Regions from separate parts of the Homo sapiens genome. Here region 2 is reported to be linked to region 1. Evidence: microRNA targets listed by miRTarBase, many of them from high-throughput screens and not tested one by one. Region 1 holds a microRNA gene; the other region holds the end of a gene's coding sequence.

What was found. The annotated mature microRNA hsa-miR-4430 reads AGGCUGGAGUGAGCGGAG and lies in region 1 at 7,046-7,063, shown strand. An mRNA with a match to its seed (bases 2 to 7 or 8) in the 3' UTR can be bound and repressed. Matches are read on the target gene's strand: a 7mer-m8 pairs with bases 2 to 8, a 7mer-A1 pairs with bases 2 to 7 and ends in A, and an 8mer does both.
Region 2: the mRNA of RHBDL2 is a reported target of hsa-miR-4430. Seed matches in the 3' UTR shown: 7mer-m8 at 7,406-7,412.

The regions. Positions count from the first base shown.
Region 1 is chr2:33,411,474-33,423,749 of GRCh38, forward strand. MIR4430 (microRNA 4430) reads left to right here and starts at 7,043; the gene lies at 7,043-7,091.
Region 2 is chr1:38,878,590-38,890,865 of GRCh38, forward strand. It overlaps RHBDL2 (rhomboid like 2), which reads right to left. Exons shown (of 8, transcript NM_017821.5): 7 at 9,374-9,435; 8 at 7,218-8,094. The coding sequence ends at 7,915. It overlaps GJA9 (gap junction protein alpha 9), which reads right to left and starts at 2,998. Exons shown (of 2, transcript NM_030772.5): 1 at 2,843-2,998. GJA9-MYCBP (GJA9-MYCBP readthrough) reads right to left here and starts at 3,037. Exons shown (of 3, transcript NR_037637.1): 1 at 2,843-3,037. RefSeq lists a silencer at 1,038-1,222.

The DNA.
Region 1 (12,276 bases):
GCAGGCACCTGTAGTCGCAGCTACTCAGGAGGCTGAGGCAGGAGAATGGCGTGAACCTGGGTGGCGGAGCTTGCAGTGAGCAGAGATCGCACCACTGCGCTCCAGCCTGGGCGACAGAGTGAGACTCCGCCTCAAAAAACAAAAAACAATGTTTAAAACAAGTGGGAAGAAAACTACTTTGATTTTTTTTCCCCCAGAATTTCCTTGTAAAATTGGCAAGCCTTATATTTCAGTAAATAAGTAAATATAGATATAGATGTAGACTAAATATAGATATTGACCTTATACTGGATGCCAACTGTGTGCCTTCATCTTCACATTCTTCAGAATTTTATGTAGTTTGCATAGCATTCTCTGGAATTTATTTTTTTGTTTTGTTTTGTTTTGGTCTGGGCCAGTCCCTGGGAACCAGCTGCTTAAACCACTGGGTACAAGCAAAACCCTGTGGTCTCTGTGCACTTTCCCATCGGCACTGCTTCGATGGACATAAACCTGCAGGAGAAAGTAAACAGAGATCTGGATGGTGTTTGTTTTTAGTGTCAAGGAATGACGTCACTGCCTGAGACCATGACTTTGAGCAAATTGGTGGATGGGCACAGAAAAATCAAACCCTGGTTAAGAGGCCACATCATTAGCACACAGAGAACAGTATATGTGCATTTCAAAAGTAGAAAACATTAACCTTTTATGAACTTTGGGTAAACTGGATGGTGTTTGTCAAGGCCAAAAAAGTGCAGTTTGTAAAACATGCATGCTATGCTTGGGCCGATTATTTTTCTTTTAGACTAAATCTGGTGATAACAATTTTATTTATTTTTCTCCATCAGGTTGGCAAAGGCGCTTGCTTGTTTAATGTCAATGAGTTAGGGTTTCTTCCATTCCTTTTTTTGTTGCCATGGGTTCTAAGCTGTCCATCTAGGAGCCAACAGTTATAAAATCACAGATAAAAAATAACTTGGAAATGGCCAGTTGGGACTTAAAGGTGAATCTGTGAGATTCACTCTCCATAAGGGTGTGAATTTGCGGTGGGCTTGGGAAAGCAAGAAGGGGTTGAGTGTGCTGGCAACATGAGGGCATTAATGAGTCAGATTCTCCCCTCATCAAGTACAAGTAACTCTTTTTTTTTTTTTTTTTTTTTTTTTTTTTTGAGACAGTTTCACTCTTGTTGCCCAGGCTGGAGTGCAATGGCATGATCTCGGCTCACCACGACCTCCGCCTCCCAGGTTGAAGCAATTCAGCTGCCTCAGCCCCCCGAGTAGCTGGAATTACAGGCATGCGCCACCACGCCTGGCTAATTTTGTATATTTTGTAGAGACGGGGTTTGCCCATGTTGGTCAGGCTGGTCTTGAAATCCCGACCTCAGGTGATCCACCCGCCTTGGCCTCCCAAAGTTTACAGGTGTGAGCCACTGCGCCCAGCCCAAGTAACTCTTAAACTGGCTACTTATGGAAGGCTATGATCTTCTTCAGGATCACAAGAGGACCAACCAATTACTTTCAAAATCAAGAAAACACAATACAAACTTGTATGGTAGGCTAGCATTGCAAGTTAGTCACTAAGCTTGAATGAATGCATTTGGGACTTGGCAGTGGAAAACATGAAGACTGACTGGGGGCTTTACATCATATTTGCCTGAGAGCTCCACCACTGGATGGCAGTAAAAATCCTTGGATTCCCGTCTATTCTTTCATTTTCCTTCTACTCATTAGCTAGCCTTTTTTGTCCATTTAAAAGTGCCATACTCTTACAGTTAATTTTGACCAGAACACCTTAGTGTGATATGCATATGACATGTTAGGCTCAAGTTCCAAAATTTAAAAATAAGAAAAAAAAAAAGATAATTATGTGCATTATGGTTAAAACAAGATAAAGGGATTTGGATGATCACAAGAGTCAGGCAGTTTCTCCATTAGTTAAGATCAATACTCAGCCACTCCCATTTTTAAAATCACATTTGGTTCAAGGTGATTAGGTATTGATTACACAGGTCTTATGGGGACTTCAAACTTCTAAATGTGGGGGGAGAATAATGGTCTCAAAATAAGGACACAGGAGTTATTTTTTCACTGGTTATCTTCAGAATTGAACAAAAGGTTGTATAATCCCCAGTGTACACTTTCAAAAGAGGACCCATGGGCACTCAAAATTCTCTATGACCAAGGCCGGGCACTGTGGCTCACGCCTGTAATCCCAGCACTTTGGGAAGCCAAGGCGGGCAGATCACGAGGTCAGGAGATCGAGACCATCCTGGCTAACATGGTGAAACCCCGTCTCTACTAAAAGTACAAAACATTAGCCAGGCGTGATGGTGGGCGCCTGTAGTCCCAGCTACTCAGGAGGCTGATGCAGGAGAGTGGCATGAACCCAAGAGGTGGAGGTTACAGTGAGCCAAGATTGCACCACTGCACTCCAGCCTGGGCAACAGAGCTAGACTCCATCTCAAAAAAAAAAAAAAAATTTCTGTGTCCAAAAGTGAACTTATCATCTCAACTTCCCAGCTTATTCATCTACGCATTCATTCATTTACTCAACAAATATTTATGGAAGACCTACCAGACTAGTGCTGTGCATTGGGAATATAGCAGCACAGGCAAGGCTCCTGCTTCCATGGAGTTTAGATAATCTCTGCCTTGTCTGGTTGTCCAACTCACACTCTGAAAGTCACTCACTCCCCACTCCCTTCGCATCATCTCCCCTTCCATTGTCTTCCAGATAAATTTTTTTTTTTTTTTTTTGAGATGGTGTCTCACTCTGTCGCCCAGGCTGGAGTGTAATACAGTGGCACAATCTTGGCTCACAACAACCTCCACCTCCTGGGTTCAAGTGTTTCTCCAGCCTCAGCCTCCCGAGTAGCTGGGATTACAGGCGCATGCCACTGCATCCAGCTAATTTTTGTATTTTTAGTAAGAGATGGGGTTTCACCACGTTGGCCAGACTGGTCTCGAACTCCTGACCTCAGGTGATCCACCCACCTCGGCCTCCCAAAGTGCTGGGATTATAGGTGTGAGCCACTGTGCCTGGCCTCTTCCAGATAAATCTGCATGTCCCCTGCTTGCCTTCTCAGCCTCATCTTGGGCTGTGTGCCCTCTTGCTGTCTCCCTCTAATAACCCGACACACAGTCGCAAGAAATATCTTTTAATTCCGTGATTGTAACTCACTCTTTATCCCTTTGGGACTTGGCCACAGTTGGTTCTTGCTTGGAATACTTCTCTTCTTCTTCCTACCAATACTCCTTGGTCTGACTAAATGCCCCTTCAGGTGTCACATTAACTGTCACTTTTTCAAGGACACCTTGGTTATCTGGGTTCTCACTGCTAGCTGGCCGGTGGTTGGCAGCTGCAGAATCTCACATGGGCACGTGCTTTCTTGGACCATTCCTGCCACCATTGCAAGTGGGTCTTCTGGAAAGCAGACTGTGAAATGGAGATTAGCATGTAGGGATCGAATTAGGGAGTGTTCTTGGGAAAATACCCCTAGAAGAGAAGAGAAGAAAATCAATATTGGGTAGAAGAACAAGAAGGATTATGATACAATCTCAAAGACTTTCTATCTCATTATAACCTTCTAAAGTTCTGCTGCTTACAGGTTTTCTTTGAAACGAATTGCATTGTTGATATCAAGAGTATTATGCACGTTCCAGCATCAATTTCTTGGTGCATTAGCTCCCCATTGAATGACACATTGGATGAACACCACTGAGATGAATATCTCTGTCAAGGTTTCTGGAAATTTTGTTGTTCCTCTGCAGGAATACCTTTTATTCTTGTAAATTCAGTGGTTATACTTTAAAAGTTTTCCGATAAAATATTGTTTTTTTAAAAAAAAATTATCATTGAGATATTCTTTAGTCTGATTTTCCAGTATGATTTTTTCTTTAAAGTGCTTCATTAAAAAGCAGTTCTTTGGCCAGGCACGGTGGCTCACGCCTGTAATCCCAGCACTTTGGGAGGCCAAGGCGGGTGGATCACCTGAGGTCAGCAGTTCAAGACCAGCCTGGCCAACATGGTGAAACACCGTCTCTACCAAAAACACAAAAATTAGCTGGGCCTAGTGGCGGGTGACTGTAATCCCAGCTACTCAGGAGGCTGAGGTAGGAGGAGAATCACTTGAACCCAGGAGGCGGAGGTTGCAGTGAGCCAAGATTGCGCCATTGCACTCCAGCTGGGCGACAAGAGCAAAACTCTGTCTCAAAAAAAAAAAAAAGCAGTTCTTCAAGAATGTAACTATTGAAATAGAATCCAAAAAATGCCATAAGCTGAGACATGATAGAAATACCTATACTTTCACCCAAATGCATGGCCAATACTAAGTTGTTTCTTCATATCTTCCGTAATATTTACTATGTGACTTCCCAAAAAATTGCTGACAAAAGAGTGAATTTTAGTTTTTGGCCTTTTGTTTTATAATTATTTCAACATTTTTTGTTGTGGCAGGGAGAACCAGAGACCCCAATGGTTTGTGGCTTTTGTTTCTTAACCGTAAAACAAAAAACCTCAAAAGAAGTTTCTGAGCAATTATTAGTAGGTTTTGTGAAATTTCTCAAAAAGCTGCTGAAATTTTTCTTCCATTTTGAATGTTTGGCTTTCAAATATCTTGTTAATCATAATAACTTTATATTATTACTAGTTAACATCTTAAGACATAACATGCCAGCCAACTAGGAAGAATTTTATCATTAATGGCAGTGGATATAAATTCATAATTTAAATGGTCTTCTTGATAACTTTGGATTTGAAGGGACTACCTGCTGGTCTAATTATCCTACCATTCTTTTCTTTTAACCTCATATTGTGGCTGATGTAGAATTTATATTTAGAACAGAAGGGTTTGCTCTGCCATTTTCTTTAGGTTTATTCTGCTGTTGTCTTTCTTTCACCTATTTTTTTACAGAAATATTTTTAAAGCCAATTTTTCCAATATGAGGGTTAACTTAGTTAAAATTAGATAATATTATCTAAAAATCCCTTTGCTGGGCACATGTTAATGGAAATGTCCAGTCTCACAGGAAGCAATCAATTGAGCCAGCACTGTTATCCCTTCCACACTTTTTTTGAGACAGAATCTCACTTTGACACCCAGGCTGGAGTGCAGTGTCACGACAATAGCGCACTGCAGCCTTGACCTCCTGCGTTCTGGTGATCCTCCCACCTCAGCCTCCCGAGCAGCTAGGCCTACAGGTACACGCCACCATGACCGGCTGATTTATTTTTATTTTTATTTTTAGTACAGGCAAGTTCTCGCTATGTTCCCCAGGCTAGTCTTGAACTCCTGGGCTCAAGCGATCTGTCCATCTTGGCCTCCCAAAGTCCCGAGATTTCAGGAATAAGTCACTGTGCCTGGCCCCTTCCATACTTTTTTCTCCACAGGATATCTTGAAATCACTGGGACTTGGGCACTGTCATTATAGCAGTTAGCATACCCTGACTGAGAGAACATCAAGAACAAGCTTGAAAAGTTTGGGGTCCTGTTCAGCCACATCTCCCCATTCTGCACTTCTACAAGTGGCTTTTTGAACCTCAGTACAAAATTTTACCTTTGCTCCTATTAATTTCTCTTCTGTTGTTGGTCCCTTTCTTTAGCCTTATGTTAAGATGTTTTGAGATTCTGATTCTGACTTCCAGTATGGTTGCTGTCTCTTCCAAGTTGACATACACTCTCCATCTTTATTCAAGATATTAATGTAACTATTAAGAAGGATATCTCTTTAAGACAAAAAAAAAGTGCAATACAAAAAAACAACTTCCTTTTGCTGAGTTGCTGAGCCCCTTGTGAGGCTGACAATGGCAGGATGGTTTAGTCTGTCGTCTCCAGAGGGTTTCCTGCCAGGGGACTTCTGGATTTCAGGATCGGCCAACATGAGTCAAACAGCTCTTGGAGCTCTTTATTCTCAAACCTTCTCTGCAAATCAGAGCTGGAGATTTCAGGATTCCCTCCCCACATTCCTCATGACCAGTACCGCTCCCTATTTTCTCAATTTTTCATGAGTCCCTTCAAAGAGAAATAATTTAAATAAAAAGTCTTTCCCAGATTTACCTTTTGCTGATTTTCCATTTTTCCCAACTAGGCAACAAGACTTCATTTTGTTCACTGATGTGTCACACAGAGTATTTCAAATAGTTTGAAGCCAGAAGAAGCAAAAAGGGAAGATGCTAAGAGGTCACCAGGGCCGGGCGTGGTGGCTCATGCCTGTAATCCCAGCACTTTGGGAGGCCGAGGCGGGCGGATCACTTGAGGTCAGGAGTTCAAGACCAGCCTGGCCAACATGGTGAAACCCTGTCTCTACTAAAAATACAAAAATTAGCCGGGTGTGGTGGTGGGCGCCTGCAATCCCAGCTACTCAGGAGGCTGAGGCAGGAGAATCGCTTGAACCTAGGAGGCAGAGGTTGCAGTGAGCCGAGATCACACCACTGCACTCCAGCCTGAGCGACAGAGTGAGACTCCATCTCAAAAAAAAAGAAAAAAGAAAAGGCAACCAGGTTTCTGTTTTGGGGGGCTACATTGAAGAAATCCAGTGTTTCCTACCTGCTTTCCATGGTGGCGGCGGGGGGGAAATCTGAATGAAAAAAGAGATTAGATCCATCCTTGAGCATGGTGGGTTTGAGGTGCCTGGAAACATCTACACAGAGATGCTGAAAGTCCATGAAACTGACTAGTCTGAAGCTGAGAAGGCGGACTGGCTTAGTGCTCTGCAATGTGCAGATAGAATATCTATGGATACTGAGTCAGGGCTCTCACAGTGTTGGTCTCAAGGCAATCCTGGTCCTTAGAATAGACATGGAAAAAGGCACAAGGCAGAAAAGGCCCTCTTTCTTTCCATGTCTATCTCCCTCTATGATCATAGACAACATGCGTTAAAAATCATATTATAAGCTGCTCTTAGAACTTGATCGCTTCAGCTCACAAGTTCAAGGCAAGTCTCGGCAACATAGCAAGACCCCATCTGTACGAAACATTTTAAAAATTAGCCAAGCATGGTGGCATGTGACTGTCATCCCAGTTACCCGGGAGGCTGAGGTGGAAGGATCACCTAAGCCCAGGAGGGTGAGGCTGGAGTGAGCGGAGATCGTACCACTGCACTCCAACCTGGTGACAAAGGGAGACCTTGTCTCAAAAAAACAAAACGACTCCCACCTCCAATAAAAAACCCTCATCAACCCCAAATCTAGACAAGTAATGTCCACTTTTGCCTGAGATTTTTTTTTTTTTTTTTTTTTGAGGCAGAATCTCGCTTTGTCGCCCAGGCTTGAGTGCGGTGGCACGATCTCGGCTCACTGCAACCTCCACCTCCCAGGTTCAAGTGATTCTCCTGCCTCAGCCTCCCGAGTAGCTGGGACTACAGGCGCATGCCACCATGCCTGGCTAATTTTTTGTATTTTTAGTAGAGACAGAGTTTTACCATGTTAGCCAGGATGGTCTCAACCTCCTGACCTCACGATCTGCCCACCTTGGCCTCCCAAAGTGCTGGGATTACAGGCGTGAGCCACCGCGCCTGGCCTTGCCTGAGGTTTTTAAATCAGCTTTACCCATCCTACTGACTGGGGGAGGGTAGCGGGTAGGTGGATGGGTTGATAATTTCCACCTCCATAGCAATCACCCTAAGCCTTCTATCTTGTTCCAGTCCTACTCTTATTTTGCTTATGTCTCTGCCCACCTTCAACCTCCTAACTTTGTGGTCACTCTTTCAAATTCTGTCTGTGGTCTTTGCATTTGGTATTTGAACTTGATCTCCCTGCTATTTGAACCTTCAGTTACCCCCAACCTCAGTTACCATCATAGATTTTTCTTTGGAAGAAATACCTTTTATTAGTCAGGATCCATTCAGCAGACAGAAGCCACACCAGGTAAAGGAAAAGGAAAATTTTAATATGAAGAATTGCAACTAGGTAAAAAGCCATTAGCTAGGTAACTGAGAAGGGAAAAAAGATCTCTAAAGTATCACAGAGGTAAGTGGCAACTGCAGTCATCAGCTACCACCCTTTCAACTGAGGGAAAAGAGGGAAGAGATTGGAATTATTAAACTTGGAAACGTAGAGTAGGAGTCTTGGAGACTCAAATTTTCTGAGGAGTTGGTACTGGCTGGCTGGGGTTAATGTCTCTGAGTGGGTACAAAGGAGCGTGTTTTATAAATGGGACAAAATTGAAAAGCAGATTCAGCTGCTGCTGTGAGAAGGCCGTGCCTCTGCCCATTTGAAGAAGCTTTGCTCAGGTGACATCACAGGAATAAGAAGTAGACAGGAGGCAGCAAATTCTCTCTTCTTCCTCCAGCCTTGCAGGCTCCCTCTACCACCCCCTAAAGAGCCTGAAAGGTATCTGGCTGGAAAAATAGAAATGTCGTTTGCAGTTTCTGTCCCAGCAACCCAAAGCGAGGTATAGAAGTGTATTTGAATTTGAAAGATAATAATGCTGTAAGGTCACTGTTTCTGACCTTAGCCAGCTCCCACTCCTCCCCAGCTAATTACTTCCCACTCCTGCCTCCAGTAGAGAATGACATATTTACCATTCATTTCCCACTGTGTTCTCCAAGTCTCTGCCCTTGCCCTGGCAATTGTAAGCAAATTGTTACTATCACTTTCCTTTCCTGATTCCACATTACTGCATGAGTAAGTTACAGTGCTCTTCAAGCAGGAGTCCACCTTGCTCTTTCAGCATGGTGAAGACAGATGATCTGCCTTACAAGCAGCTGCAGATCTTTTCCTTACCTCGAATCCTTTCTTCAGAGAAATTTGGAGGTAATTCCGAGTTTCTCTTGGGCTCCCTTCAGCAGCTTCATTTACTCAGGCTGTGGTCTTGTTATTTAATGTTGCATAGCAAATCACCCTAAATTGTAAAGGCTTGAAACGAGAACAAGCAGTTGTTGTCTTTTATGGTTTCAAGGCATCGGAAATTAGGAAGCAGGTTGGCTGAGCTGGGTTGAGGTCTCTCATGAGGCTGTAGTCACGTGGTGGATGAGGCTGGGGTCATCTTGAAAGCTCTGGCACCTGGGCCGGGAAGACTCAAGAAGCTGGGGATAGGAACAACTGGGGCTCCTTAGGTATCTGTCTACTTATTTAGACTCTCCAAGTGGTCCTTTTCAGAGTATCTTGATTTGTACATGGAAGCCCATGCCCCACAGAGCAGTTCTCCCCAGAGAAGCCAGGAGAAGCTGTATGTCTAACTTCACTCAGAATTATCCTCACTTCTGCCACATTCTGTTCATCAAGGCGGTTACAAAAGCCCACCCAAGTTCAACAGGAGGGAACATAAACTCTACTATTTGATGGGAAGAGTGTCAAAGAATTTGCAAGCACTTTGAAAACCACAAGCGGCACCTCTGGCTTAGGGTTTGTGGGAAACTCTGAACCATTGTTTTTCTCATATCTAGAATTATACTCTTTCAAACAGGCAGGATTCCTGACTATACTATGTGGCATGCTCTCCTTCCTGCACATGAATATGTAAAACAATAGAAAGAAGGGACATTCAGCCTGGACACTACAGTCCTCATGCTGGTCCAGGATCAGAGATACAATCATCGGTGCTTCCTGACTGGTCCCAGGAAGACCTTTTAGGATTGTTGCCTGAAGAGTTAATTTCCATGTCAAATCTACAAAGCTCTGGGGCAGACCGCAAGCCACTGCAGCTGGTTATATTCGCCACTCTCTGCTGGCACCTCCAGGAGGGCACATAACTGTCCATGTATTATGCTGGGGCATATCACATCAAATATGGGGTCTGGCCTGAGCAGCAAACATCCACTACTGGGAAAATGAGGCTGATCAGGCTCCATTCATGAAGATCAGAGCAACTGGTGCCTTCCTACAGGTTTGAGCCATGATAGAATTAGAGGTATGAGTGGTAGCACCAGATTTCTGTATATGGCTTGGGAGTAACAAGTGGGTTGGGAAGGGGAGCTAAGGAGTTTGCCTGGAAGCTGCTTTCATATAACACAAATCCTATTTTACTTTGAGTGTATGTTTATTTGGGATAACTTCAGGGGTGGAGGCCAGTGGATGTCATGGGTGCCAAAAGCCTACACAGGTCACCTATTGGTGCCATTATTTGGGCCACTATGATGTTTTAAAAATCAAGCCATGGTGGCCAGGTGCGGTGGCTCACTCCTGTAATCCCAGCACTTTAGGAGGCCGAGGCGGGCGGATCACCTGAGGTCAGGAGTTCGAGACCAGCCTGGCCAATATGGGGAAATCCCGTCTCTACTAAAAATACAAAAATAAGCCAGGCGTGGTGATGCATGCCTGTAATCCCAGCTACTCGAGAGGCTGAGGCAGGAGAATAGCTCGAACCTGGGAGGTGGAGGTTGCAGTGAGCCAAGATCGCACCACTGCACTCCAGCCTGGGTGACAGAGTGAGACACTGTCTCAAGAAAAAAAAAAAAAAAATCAAGCCATGGCTAAAGAAGCCTAATGACCTATTAGCAAACGTACAGACCTCAGACCTCCATATACTTCCCTGCCTTTCCTGTTCCTAACAACTTTGAGATCCTTACCACATTCCTGCTCCTTATCAACCCTGAGATCCTTACCACATTCCTGCTCCTTATTAACCTTGAGATCCTTAGCAATTATTTCCGGGAGGCTTGCATCATGGAGATGATGTGCACCAGGAGAGCATCCTCACAGTGTTACACAGCAGTTAGGAGGCATGTTTTTGCTGCATGGGTGTGCTTGATTTTTGAGCCTAAGACTTCCACAACTCCACTGACACAACTTGTGTTGACTGTTAATAAGACTCTCCACCTCCCCCCTGGAAGAACCAATGTTCTTTTTAATGAATACGAACAACAACTCTTCCCAACCACCCACTGCATCTAAGATAGTTCTTCTCCACACTTGTATCCATTGTCTTATCCCTGATGCCTGTAACTACTCTTTGGCACCTGGTCCACAGATACATGAAATTGTATCTTTAGAAGGCAGGGAACATGGTCTAGATCTTGAGGTGACCTGTGGTCTGAATGGTTGTGTCTCCCTCAGATTCATATGTTGAAACCTAATCACCAAAGTGATGGGATTAGAAGGTGGGGACTTTGAGACGTGATGAGGTCCTGAGGCCTCTACCCTCATGAATGGGATTAGTGCATTTATAAAAGAGGCCCCAAGGAGCTGCCTTGTCCCTTCCACCATGTGAAGATGCAGCAGGAAGGTTCCATCTATGAGAAAGCAGGCCCTCACCAGACACCAAATCTGTAGGCATCCCCTTCCTAGCCTCTAGGAGTGTGAGAAATAAATTTTTGTTGTTTATAAGCTACCCAGATTTTGATATTTTATTATAGCAGCCTGAACAAAGACAGAGGCAAAAAGCCACAGCAATAAATGAAAAGTCACATCGGGCCGGGCACGGTGGCTCACGCCTGTAATCCCAGCACTTTGGGAGGCCGAGGTGGGTGGATCACGAGGTCAGGAAATGGAGACCATCCTGGCTAACAGGGCGAAACCCCATCTCTACTAAAAATACAAAAAAAAAAAAAAAAAATTAGCTGGGCGTGGTGGCGGGCGCCTATAGTCCCAGCTACTCTGGAGGCTGAGGCAGGAGAATGGCGTGAACCCGGGAGGCAGAGTTTGCAGTGAGCCGAGATCACACTACTGCACTCCAGCCTGGGCGACAGAGCGAGATTCCGTCTCAAAAAAAAAAAAAAGTCACATCGTAGGTGTGTCTCTCTGTCTGATAATGAGTGTGGCCTTTGCATTGTCCCTGCAGTTTTGTGAATGCCAGTAAGTGGTATACTGTGAAAACTCATGGACCTGCATGATACCGTGCTTGCAGAGAACTATTGTGAGGAGCTTCCAAATGCTTTTCACATGCCCATACTTTTAAAAATATATCCAAATAATAGGTGTGTGGCCTACTGGGTAAAAAGAAGATTCTGCTTTACTGGGAGTCAACTGACCTTAAACCCCATCCTGCTTTCCACAGAGCTGAGGGCATCTCTTTCTTGGCAACCTGTAAACCTTGATTGTGTAGTTGTTAGGAACTGCCATAGGGCTAGGGCAGTGGGGACAAATGACCACAAACTGGATGCCTTAACTCAGCAGAAATGTGTTCTCACAATATTGAAGGCCAGAAGTCTGAAATCAAGATGTTGGCAGGACTGTGCTCCCTTTAAAGGTCCTACAGGAGAATCCTTCCTTGCCTCTTTCTAACTTATGGCGGCTCCAGGTATTCCTTGATGTTCCTTGAAGTGTAGCCACATCACTCCAGTCTTTTCCTTTGTCTTTACATGGCCTTCTTTTCTGTGTATGTCCGTATGCCCTCTCCTCTTCTCATAAGAACACCAGTAA
Region 2 (12,276 bases), not on the chromosome of region 1:
TCACTTGAACCTGGGAGGCAGAGGTTGCGGTGAGCCAAGATCGCGCCATTGCACTCCAGCCTTGGCGACAAGAGCAGAAACTCTGTCTCAGAAAACAAAAAGAACTCCAAAAATTCTCAACTATTTTATGGTACCAGAATCTTTTTTTTTTTTTTTTTTTTGAGACGAAGTTTCCCTCTTGTTGCCCAGGCTGGAGTGCAATGGCACAATCTCGGCTCACCGCAACCTCCACCTCCCAGGTTCAAGTGATTCTCCTGCCCCAGGCTCCAGAGTAGCTGGTATTACAGACATGCGCCACCATGCCCAGCTAATTTTGTATTTTTAGTAGAGATGGGGTTCCTCCATATTGGTCAGGCTAGTTTCGAACTCCCAACCTCAGGTGATCCACCTGCCTCGGCCTCCCAAAGTGCTGGGATTACAGGCGTGAGCCACTGCGCCCGGCCTTATGGTACCAGAATCTCATTATAGATATTACTTGCAATAGATTGTTCACTGGTATGGTGGCAGTATTATGGAAACTTTCACTGTAGCAGTATTTGACCTATTTAAGACATATAGCTGCTCTCTTGAAGGAAGCAGTGGGGCAAGTTATAATTTAGCTGCTTGGATTATTTGCCGGCAGATTGCATATTAAGGTTGGTATCCCAGGTTATCTCAGAGGAAATATACCCCAAAGGAAAGATTTTAAAAGTGAATATTTTCATTATTTTTCATTTAAAATATAAATGTATGTCCTGTCCCCTTTATATAAAGGGAACTGTTACACAATCAAACAAACTACTAAGATACAAGATGTGTTCATCACTAAAATCCTATGCGGTAAGTATGTTGTTTCCCCCATCTTACAGATGAGGAAACGGAAGCACACCTTAATTTACCTGAGGTCACACAGCTGGAGCTGGCATTCAAACCCAATCATTGTGGCTTTAGAGTCAGCTCCTTAAATTTTTTACTAAACTATTATTTTTCCTCTGTAAGCAAACTTCAAATTTGCCGGAAAGAAACATTAAGAGATTATCTGTTTTCTCTTAAGTTTAATCATTTAAATTTAGGAATGTAAAATAGTGATAGCTTTGGCTTTTTAAATAACTAGTTCTAGAGTCTTTAGTTCCTTTCTTCAGCCTTTGTTCTGTTTTTTTTGTTCGTTTGTTTTCTGAGACGGAGTCTCGCCCTGTCGCCCAGGCTGGGGTGCAGTGGCGCGATCTCGGCTCACTGCAAGCTCCGCCTCCCGGGTTCACGCCATTCTCCTGCCTCAGCCTCTCCGGGTAGCTGGGACTACAGGCGCCTGCCACCACGCCCGGCTAATTTTTTTGTTATTTTTAGTAGAGACGGGGTTTCACCGTGATCTCGATCTCCTGACCTCGTGATCCTCCCGCCTCGGCCTCCCAAAGTGCTGGGATTACAAGCGTGAGCCACCGCGCCCGGCTCTGTTAATACGATTTGCAAAAGCATCAACCTTCTAAAATATAGTTGTATTCCTGAAATAGAGAAACTTTCCATTGACTTTATTATGTTAATAATAGCATACTCTGGCCGGGCACGGTGGCTCACGCCTGTAATCCCAATACTTTAGGAGGCCGAGGCCAGCGGATCACTTGAGGTCAGGAGTTTGAGACCAGCCTGGCCAACATGGTTGAAACCCTTGCTCTACTAAAAATACAAAAATTAGTCGGGCGTGGTGGCGGGCGCCTGTAGTCCCAGCTACTCGGGAGGCTGAGGCAGAAGAATCACTTGAACCCAGAGGCAGAGGTTGCAGTGAGCCGAGATCACACCATTGCACTCCAGCCTGGGCGACAGAGCAAGACTCTGTCTCAAAAAAAAATAAATAATAATAATAATAATAATAATAATAATAATAATAATAGCATACTCTGACCCAACAACCCAAAGCACTTTAAAATGTAAGCAAGTTGGCCAGGCGCGGTGGCTCACGCCTGTAATCCCAGCACTTTGGGAGGCACAGGCGGGCGGATTACGAGGTCAGGAGTTCGAGACCAGCCTGAGCAACATGGTTGAACCCCATCTCTACTAAAAATACAAAAATTAGCCGGGCATGGTGGCACATGCCTGTAATCCCAGCTACTCAGGAGACTGAGGCAGGAGAATCGCTTGAACCTGGGAGGTGAAGGTTGCAGTGAGCCGAGATCTGGCCACTGCATTCCAGCCTGGGCAATAGAGTGAGACTCTGTCTCAAAAAATAAAAAAAAAGTAAGCAAGTTAAGTCTCATTTATGGTTCATAAATAATAATAATGTAAGCAAAGATGTAATTCATGTTGTTTATAATAGTCATAAGCTAAAAACATAAAATAATAATACAAGAAAAACTGGTTAAATAATCGACTACATCCACGGTGTGATACTATGCAACCAGTAGAAATGATAAACATACATAAAATGGCATTTGATATTTCATTTCAGTGAAATTGATGTTATAAAATAGAATAATATGGCCCCATTATTATAAGTTTAGTTACATTTACAGATGTATACAAAAAAGTCTAGAAGGATATTCATGAAAATATTAACGGTGATTAGCTCTGGATGTTGGGATTACAAATTATATACTTAATATATTGTAATTACATGTATTTTAATTTTTTACTATAAGCATTTTACTTTTATAATCATAAAAAGAAAGAAAATATTTTTTTCATAAAGGACAACACATAGTATTTCCTGAAAGAAGGAGCAGTAGTATTTAGCTACAAATTAAAGCTTTCATAGCAAATGACATAAAAACTGGTATACATATATACAGTACCATAGAATTCAAAAGAAAAAGATAAAAACATTTCAAACAACTCTTTCTTAATAAGCTAAAACAGAGAGATTAACACAAACCTTTCTTAGTTTAGGTAAATCTGAGAAGCAAACCATGTTTAGAAGTTACAGCATGGCCATCTTCAATTTATTTTCTGAATTTGTCCCTTTGCTGGTATAGAGCAGATTCAGTTCAGTTGAATGTAGTGAGTGAGTCATCCATCAACTAAAATCCATGTCCCTTTCTGCTTATCCTTGCTTTTAAAACAGCACCATCCAATAGAACTTTCTGCAACAATGGAAATATTCTATCTGTGCTAGCCAATAAGGCAGCCAGTAGCCAAATGTAGCTATTGAACACTTGCATTATGGTTTGTGTGTCAGAGCAATTGAATTTTTAATTTTAAATAATTTTAATAAAAATGTAAAGAGCTGCATCTACCTAATGGCTGCTTTTTTGGACAGCACAGATAAAGAATGCTTATAATAGTCCTGATAACACACTGCAATCTAGAAGACTAAAGTCATGAGCCCCAAATTAAGCTGAGTGAATGATTCCTCCATAATTCAGAGATGTCAAATTTAAAATGACAGGAGGTATTTGTGTGCTGTTTGTATGCAACTTTTGCCACTGGGGGAACCTAATAAAATGTCATTGTTTTTTGTGCAATAAACCATGTTTCTAGAACCAAAAAAGTCTTTCTTACTAGATAATAACTTCTTGGTCATCTGCCTTAATAAATGGGTCATGTCCGATTTCATAGATAGATCCTGATTCTGTCTCCCATGTTCTGTTATTAACAATTACATTGTATTTTAGGTCATTAAAGGTCCCTTCAGAGCTAGTGATCTGGCAGGTTGAGCATAACAGATAAATACTTCTTCCCTGGGCTTTTTTGCCAACAATAGCTACTTCTCAGATTAAATACAAACATTTCACCAGGGACAAATATATATATATATATATATATATATATATATATATATATATATATATATATTTACATATATATTTTTATATATATATTATTTATATATATATATATTTGTATAGGCACACATACATGCACAATATATTCATGTTTCTATATTATGTGTTATCTGAATTACATATGTGTAACTCATAAATTATTAATAAACTCGAAACTTCCTCAACCTCGGTAGTCAGAGAATACATATTTAAGTGAAATATTATTTTTTAACTATCAAAATGCAAAATTTTAAAGATTTATAATACCTTCTTTTGGCAAAGTAGGGAGACACTGTTACTCTCATATCCTGTAGGTAAGAATATAAATGGATACAGCTATTTAAAAGGCAGTTTAAACCTATCAATATTAGTATAGCATTTCTGCTTTTGGATACTTGAAATATTCATTCAGCATAGACATTCAGAGACACACTGCACATGCTAGGATGTTCACATAGCACTGTTGGTAATTATACAAAAGCAGCAATAATTTAAATGTCTGACAGAGGAATGGTTATCTATGGTACATCTATATCATTCAGCAATTCAGAGAATAAAGATTTCTATGAACTAATAGAGAAAGGTCCCTAGGTCATGTTGTAAAGCAAGTTATAGAACAATACATGTATCACATTTATCCTGTTAAAACCTACATTTCATAAAAATATCTAATTAGAGGCTGGGCTCATGTCTATAATCCTAGCACTTTGGGAGGAGGCTGAGACAGGCGGATCACCTGAAGTCAGGAGTTCAAGACCAGCCTGGCCAATGTGGTGAAACCCAGTCTCTATTAAAAATACCAAAAATTAGCCAGGCATGGTGGCACATGCCTATAATCCCAGCTACCCGGGAGGCTGAGGCAGGAGAATTGCTTGAACCCAGGAGGCAGAGGTTGCAGTGAGCCGAGATGGCGCCACTGCACTCCAGCCTGGGCGACACAGCAAGACCCTGTCTCAAGAAAAAAAAAAATATATATATACACACACACACACACACACACACACACACACACACACACACATATATATTTAGCTAAAATCGATTAACAAAAACTTTTCCTAGTTGAGATCAATCTGAGAAGCAAATGATGCTTAGGAGGAGTTATACCATGGACACCTCTAATTTGTTCTTCAGATTTGTCCCTTTGAGGGTGTAGAGCAGATTCAGTGAAGTTCAATACAGTGGATGAGTTGGACATTAACTTAAATCCATTTTCCTTTCTGCTCATCCTACATAGAAAAATGTCTGCAAGGATACAGACCATACTGTTGTGACCACTGATGATGGTCAGCACTAGGGAAAAACAGCAGGTTTGAAGTGAGAAGGCAAAAGGAGATTTTTTTTTTTTTTAAGACAGGGTCTCACTCTGTCACCCAGGCTGGAGGGCAGTGGCATGATCATAGCTCACTGTAACCTCGAACTCCTGGGTTCCAGTGATCCTCCCACCTCAGCCTCTGGAGTAGCTAGAACTACAGGCAAGCACCACCACACCTGGTTATTTTTTATGTTTTTGTAGAGTTCTTGAATGTTACCCAGGCTGTTCTCAAACTCCTGGGCTCAAGCAGTCCTCCCACATTGGCCTCCCAAAGTGCTGAGATTATAGGCATGAGCCACTGCACCTGGCTGAGATTTTATCTTTTAACTTCTTGTTTGAATCTTTGTTTAACCAAGAACACACTCATAAGGCCAGGCATGGTGGCTCACACCTGTAATCCCAGCACTTTGGGAGGCTGAGGTGGGTGGATCACTTGAGGTCAGGGGTTTGAGACCAGCCTGGCCAACATGGTGAAACACCGTCTCTACTAAAAAATACAAAAATTAGCCGAGTGCAGTGGTTCACACCTGTAATCCCAGCACTTTGGGAGGCCGAGGTGGGCGGATCACCTAAGGTCAGGAGTTCAAGACCAGCCTGGCCAACATGGTGAAACCCCGTCTCTACTAAAAATACAAAAATTAGCCAGGCGTGGTGGCAGGTGCCTGTAATCCCAGCTACTCAGGAGGCTGAGGCAGGAGAATCACTTGAACCCAGTGGGTGGAGGTGGCAGTGAGCCGAGATCGTACCATCGCACTCTAGCCTAGATGACAAGAGCGAAACTCCATCTCAAAAAAAAAAAAAAATTAGGGACCGGGCACAGTGGCTCACACCTGTAATCCCAGCACTTTGGGAGGCCAAGGCGGGCAGATCGCCTGAGGGCCTGAGGTCGGGAGTTCGAGACCAGCCTGGCCAGCATGGTGAAACCCCGTCTCTACTAAAAATAAATAAATAAATAAATAAATAAATAAATAAATAAATAAATAAATAAATTAGTCAGGTTTGGTGGCGGCCACCTGTAATCCCAGCTACTCAGGAAGCTGAGATAGGAGAATCACTTGAACCCAGGAGGCGGAGGTTTCAGTGAACCAAGATCCGGCCACTGCACTCCAGCCTGGGCGACAGAGCAAGACTCGGTCTCAAAAAAAAAAAAATAATAATTAGCCAGATGTGGTGGCGCATGCCTGTAATCCCAGCTACTCTGGAGGCTGAGGTAGGAGAATTGCTTGAACCCAGGAGGCAGAGGTTGCAGTGAGCCAAGATCAGCCCACTGCACTCCAGCCTGGGAAACAGAGCGAGACTCCATCTCAAAAAAAAACAAAACAAAAAAAAAAACACTCATATTCCCATGTTTATACTTAAATTTAACTTTTTAAACAAATTTCTGATCAGTTTTTCTCAAAATACTAAAGTATTAACTTTTCTCACTATATCTAACTAAGTGTATATGCCCCTTCCAGATACAGTGACATGTTTAGATGGGTGTTTAATAAATACATTGATGATAAAAGAAAAAATTATATTTCCTATATTCAGATGACCCAAAACTACCATTTCCAAAAACATAATAAACCACAGTCTGAATTCTATACAGGAAAATGACACATGCTTCTCAGCTTTCAGGTATGACATTTTACCTTCTGTAAATAAATCCTACCCACTCCTAGGAGAGCCATGACCCACATGAAGGATGACAGTCTGATCACAGATGAGAATCTGAAGTCTAGGTATATAGTGTGCACCAGAAAGCCAGTGCCCGGTTCCTTGGGATCTTAGACACGGTATCAGAATCTTAAACTAGCAGTCCAGAAAATCCTCAGTCTTCTTCTATGAGATATTTCCACCATTCATGGTGTACCCCGCATAGATGTTTGTTCCTGTACTCCTATGATACCCTTCAGTGTTTGGGGAACACAGCATTGTTGGACCTATAGGGGAGACTACAGGTTTCCAAGTCATTATCTATGTTTAAATTCTGCTCCCCTCAGACAAGTACTTAATTCTTTAAGGGTTCCTTTAAGGGATTCTTTAAGATTACTCTAAGATGCAGAGTAATAACTACCTTTCCGGGTTGTTGATAATATTATCAATAAAGTGTGTAAAACACCTCAAACAGTAGTGATCTATCTCCTCAAACAGTGATCTATTTTAAAGTGATTATCAGGAGTCTGACACAGGTATAAAAAGTTTTTATTATCAGCATTGTACAGTATTCATAGATTTTATGAAGCATTCTCCAAAATATATCCTCCAAGGAGAGTAAGTCTGTTTTATAGAATACCATATGCCTGGGAAAGACCCAATCTCTAATTTTGTTTTGTTTTGTTTTGTTTTTTGAGACCGAGTGTCGCTCTGTCACCCAGGCTGGAGTGCAGTGGCGCAATCTCGGCTCACTGCAACCTTCGCCTCCCAGGTTCAAGCAATTCTCCTGCCTCAGCCTCGCAAGTAGCTGGGACTACAGGCACACGCCACCACGCCCGGCTAATTTTTGTATTTTCTTTAGTAGAGACAGGGTTTCACCATATTGGTCAGGCTGGTCTTGAACTCATGACCTCAGGTGATTTCACCCGCCTCAGCCTCCCAAAGTGCTGGGATTACAGGCGTGAGCCACTGCGCCTGGCCCCAATCTCTAGTTTTTACTACCCTTCTTTTCTCTCTTCTTCTTCCCTTTCTACATTAAGAAGCCCCTTCCTTAAATCCTAAGGTCCTTTTATAGGCAATCTTTGCAACTGATGAGTTTAATGCTGTTTTGTCCTCTATATAAAATTGTTAGCCTTTTCTGAGACTTCTCTGTTTCTTCATAGAGTCTTCCTTTTTTTTTTATTTCCTCCAGATGGCTCTTTTTATTAATTGACTTACAATAGGGGCAGGTCAGTTTGCTGGAGATAGGAAAATGTTGAAAAACACAGCAAATAAGACACAAGCTAAATATGCAGCAATTGCTATCCAAAACCTTGGATCTTTCAGCAGTGCTTTATCAAAGCAGCTAAACACCGTGTAGCCAATGGACATTCCAGCAAATCCACCTGCAATGTGAGCTGCAAAAGACACCTTGGGAGAAAAGGAGGGAAAATGGAAATAAGTGAAGACAATGCTAATTGTGTATTTCAGTTGCATCTCTCTTATTCAAACACAAATACCGTCACAGTTAAACAAGAGTCTTAAAGGTCTAGAGAACTAGGGGTAAGGCAAAAGAGACACAAAACTCCATGTGCACAGAGAGAAGGAGATACTCTGAAAGATACAAAGCTTAAAAATGTCATTTTCACCCATTCTTAGAGTACAAAAGACAGAGAAATTGTTTCTCATTCTTAATCATCATTGCATTTAAAATAATTCTATATAATGCCAACTAAGAGAATGGTTGAGTTGCCATGAGGGATCTCTATAGCAGCATAATCTGATTCCACATACATGGGGTTTCAGATTTAAAACACAAGTAATAACATACACAAGAAATACCCAAACAGAAACTACCAAATTCAAAGACAAATCACAGCAAAACTGGAAAATTTTGTCAATTTTCTTTATTGTCAACTTATAGAACTCAATCTTTCATTGCTGTTTTCCAATCTGTTTTTTTGTTTTGTTTTGTTTTTTGAAATGGGGTCTCAACTCTGTCGCCCAGGCTGGAGTGCAGTCGCATGATCACAGCTCACTGTAGACTCAACCTCTAGGACTCAAGCAATCCTCCCATCTCAGCTCCCCAAGTAGCTGGGACTACAGGCACATGCCACCATGCCTGGCTAAACCAACTGCTTTTTATTCTATGTGGACAGGAAAATCCATTCTCTCCTGTTTTTTGTTTTTTTGAGACAGAGTCACTCTGTCACCCAGGCTGGAGTGCAGTGGTGCGATCTCGGCTCACTGCAACCTCCGCCTCCCAGATTCAAGCGATTCTCCTGCCTCAGCTTCCCGAGTAGCTGGGATTACAGGTGACTGCCACCACGCCCAGCTAATTTTTGTATTTTTAGTAGAGACGGGGTTTCATCATATTGGCCAGGCTGGTCTCAAACTCCTGACCCTGTGATCCGCCGATCTTGGCTTCCCAAAGTGCTGGGATTACAGGCATGAGCCACCACGCCTGGCCATTCTCTCCTGTTTTGGAATAGCTACCAATATGGCAGGTGCAGTGAAGTAGAGCCAGTGATCAGGGCTGTGAGAGAGTTAAGTGGGAAGGACAATTCAAAAGTCTGATTTCCTTAAAAATTTTCTTAACTTCCAAATGGAAATTTGGCTGCCCTAAATCACAGCGTTGTAACCCCTATTTGATAACCCTTTTTGACAGTAAACTAATTTCTATTTTATAAAAGAAAGAAACTGAACTCACCGGAGACCCATCTTCAGGAACAAAGAACCTTCTATAGAGAGCAAATCCCATGTCCAACACAACTAGAAGGAAAAACACCCTGATAAAGGCTCAGAATCTCCACAGTAGTACACCAAATGTTTTTGGTTCCCCTCTAATAATAATAATACTAGCTATCATTTATTGATACTTAACTCTGTGACAGGTGCTTTTCTAAGAGATCTTTTAACTCATTAATCTTCATCACAACCCTGTGAAGTAGGAACTATCATTATCCCATTTTACAGATTTATTCATCCAACAAGCATTCATTGTCCTCTATGTGTCAGGCATTATTCTAGCTGGTAGATAGGCAGCAATGGACAGATCTAACAGCCCTGACTCATGGAGCTGACAAACTGTTGGGGGGTATGTGGGGGGGTGATTGGTAGGGAGGCAAACAAATAAGTAAAACATACAGTATGTCAAATAGTGCTAAGTGCTATGGAGAAAATACAAAGAGAAGAAGAAATAGGAATGCCAGTTGTCGAGTGTGATTTCCAATAGGGGTGTCAAGGAGGATCTCTTTGAGAATATGACGCTGGACAGAGGTAAGGGTCCAAGTCATGCTGCTATTTGACATAAGAGTGTTTCAGAGAGAGGGAAGACCAAGTACAAAGTCCCTAAGCAGGAATGTGCCTGGTGTGTTTGAAAAATACCAAAGCAGTTGAGCTGGCTGGATCAGTAGTTTTCAAAGTGGTTTTTACCAAGACCAGCAGCATCAGCTTCACCTGGAAACTTACTAGATATGAAAACTCTTAAACCCACCCCAGACCTACTGAACCAGAAAACTTAAGGGTGGGACTCAGCTTTCTGTTTTTGTTTTTGTTTTTGTTTTCAGAAGGTGAGTTGTACTCTCCTTAGTAGATTCCTACTTCCATGGCTGTGTTTTCCAACTACCAACTGTGGTAAAGTTGTTTCCAACAACTTTGTTTTAACAAGACCTCCAGGTGATTCTGGACTAGAGTTAGGGATAAGGTTGTGGGTGATGAGGTCAGACAGGTAGCAGGGGACAGATTATGTAGGGTCTATATGGGCCATTGTAAGGACTTCAACCTTTACTGAGTGATAGGAAGTCTTTGAAAGCTCTTGAGCACAGGAGTGACATGATAGATTTTGTTTGTTTGTTTATGACAGAGTCTCAACTCTGTCGCCCAGGCTGGAATGCAGTAGTGCAATCTCGGCTCACTGCAACCTCCGCCTCCCAGGTTCAAGCAATTCTCGTGCCTCAGCCTCCTGATTAGCTGGGATTACAGACATGTGCCACTATGCCCGGTTAATTTTTGTATTTTTAGTAGAGACAGCATTTCACCGTGTTGACAAGGCTGGTCTCCAACTCTCGAACTCCTGACCTCAGGTGATCCACCCACCTCGACCTCCCAAAGTGCTGGGATTACAGGCTTGAGCAACCACACTGATGGTTTTACAAAGATTATTCTAGCTGCCATATAGGAAGTAGACTATAAGGGAGCAAGAACAGGAACTGGAAGACCAGCTGGAAAAATACTATTGTAGCAATCGAAGTGAAGAAGGATGGTGGCATTTTATACATAAAGAAACCAAGACACCAAGACTCCACTCTCAGCCACCACACTAATTGCCTGTAATTACCATCGGGAGTTCTGAAGGTGTCAGGCCATGAAAGGAAATCATTCCATATTCTCCAATAAAACTGTGAGAGCCAGAAGTTAGGCAGTCGTCAAGTAAGTCGGATCTGCACTGCAAAAGGAGCTTCCGACTTCTTGGCCTAGAAGAACTCTGCCCTATATGTGTAGTGCTTGGAAACATCTCTTGCAGCTATCACATTCCACACCCATCCCCTAATTCCCTATGCTCTACTTAGTGAGCCACTGTGTCCTAGGAGATGAAAAGACCTAGTCCTTGCCTTTGGGAAAATAGCATCAGGACATGTGCTCTGACTAGATTCCCTTTCAATACTGTATTGATTGATGTTGAAGTCACTGGACAGAAATTGAGGTCGAGGAAATATTCAATATTCATTTAGTTGTAAATGACTATTACACAAAGTGCTAGATTCATGAGGCTATATAATATTTTCTTTTTTTTTTTTTTTCAAGACGCAGTCTCACTCTGTCGCCTAGGCTGGAGTGCAGTGGTGCAATCTCAGCTCACTGCAACCTCCACCTCCTGGGTTCACGCCATTCTCCTGCCTCAGCCTCCTGAGCAGCTGGAACTACAGGCCCATGCCACCATGCCTGGTTAATTTTTGTATTTTTAGTAGAGACGGGGTTTCACCATGAGATCTCCTGACCTCGTGATCCACCCGCCTCGGCTTCCTAAAGTGCTGCGATTACAGGCGTGAGCTACCGTGCCTGGCCCATATTTTCAATCATCATTTGCATTTCCTGGTCCACATAAATAACATGCCCATGGGTCTAGGAAAGTGTTTTTAAAAAACACTGCCACATAACTGGAAACAGTTACTTTGGCTTAGTCTTCCACAATAGGAGACCTCCTCTCAGAAAGTCTTTGTAACCATTAGTATGTCAATTTCTCCAACCAGTTTCTCTCATCTTGCCCCTTCCTATATCTGAGTCTGGTTCTTTCCTCTTTCTGCTTCCTAGGGGACTTTTCTTCTGGGTTGCTGCAGCCTCTAAACTGAGATGTGTCTTCCCACCTGAAAATAAGCCCTTATTCCAAGAAGCCAAACCATTGTCCTCCTTAAAAATTTAACATTTACTTTAAAAGAGTTGCCTTCATATGGATTTTTTTTTTTTTGAGACAACCTCGCTCTGCTGCCCAGGCTAGACTACAGTGGCATGTTCACGGCTCACTGCAGCCTTGACCTCCCAGGCTCAAGCGAATTCTCCCACCTCAGCCTCCTGAGTAGCTGGAACCACAGGCCCACACCGCAACACCTGACC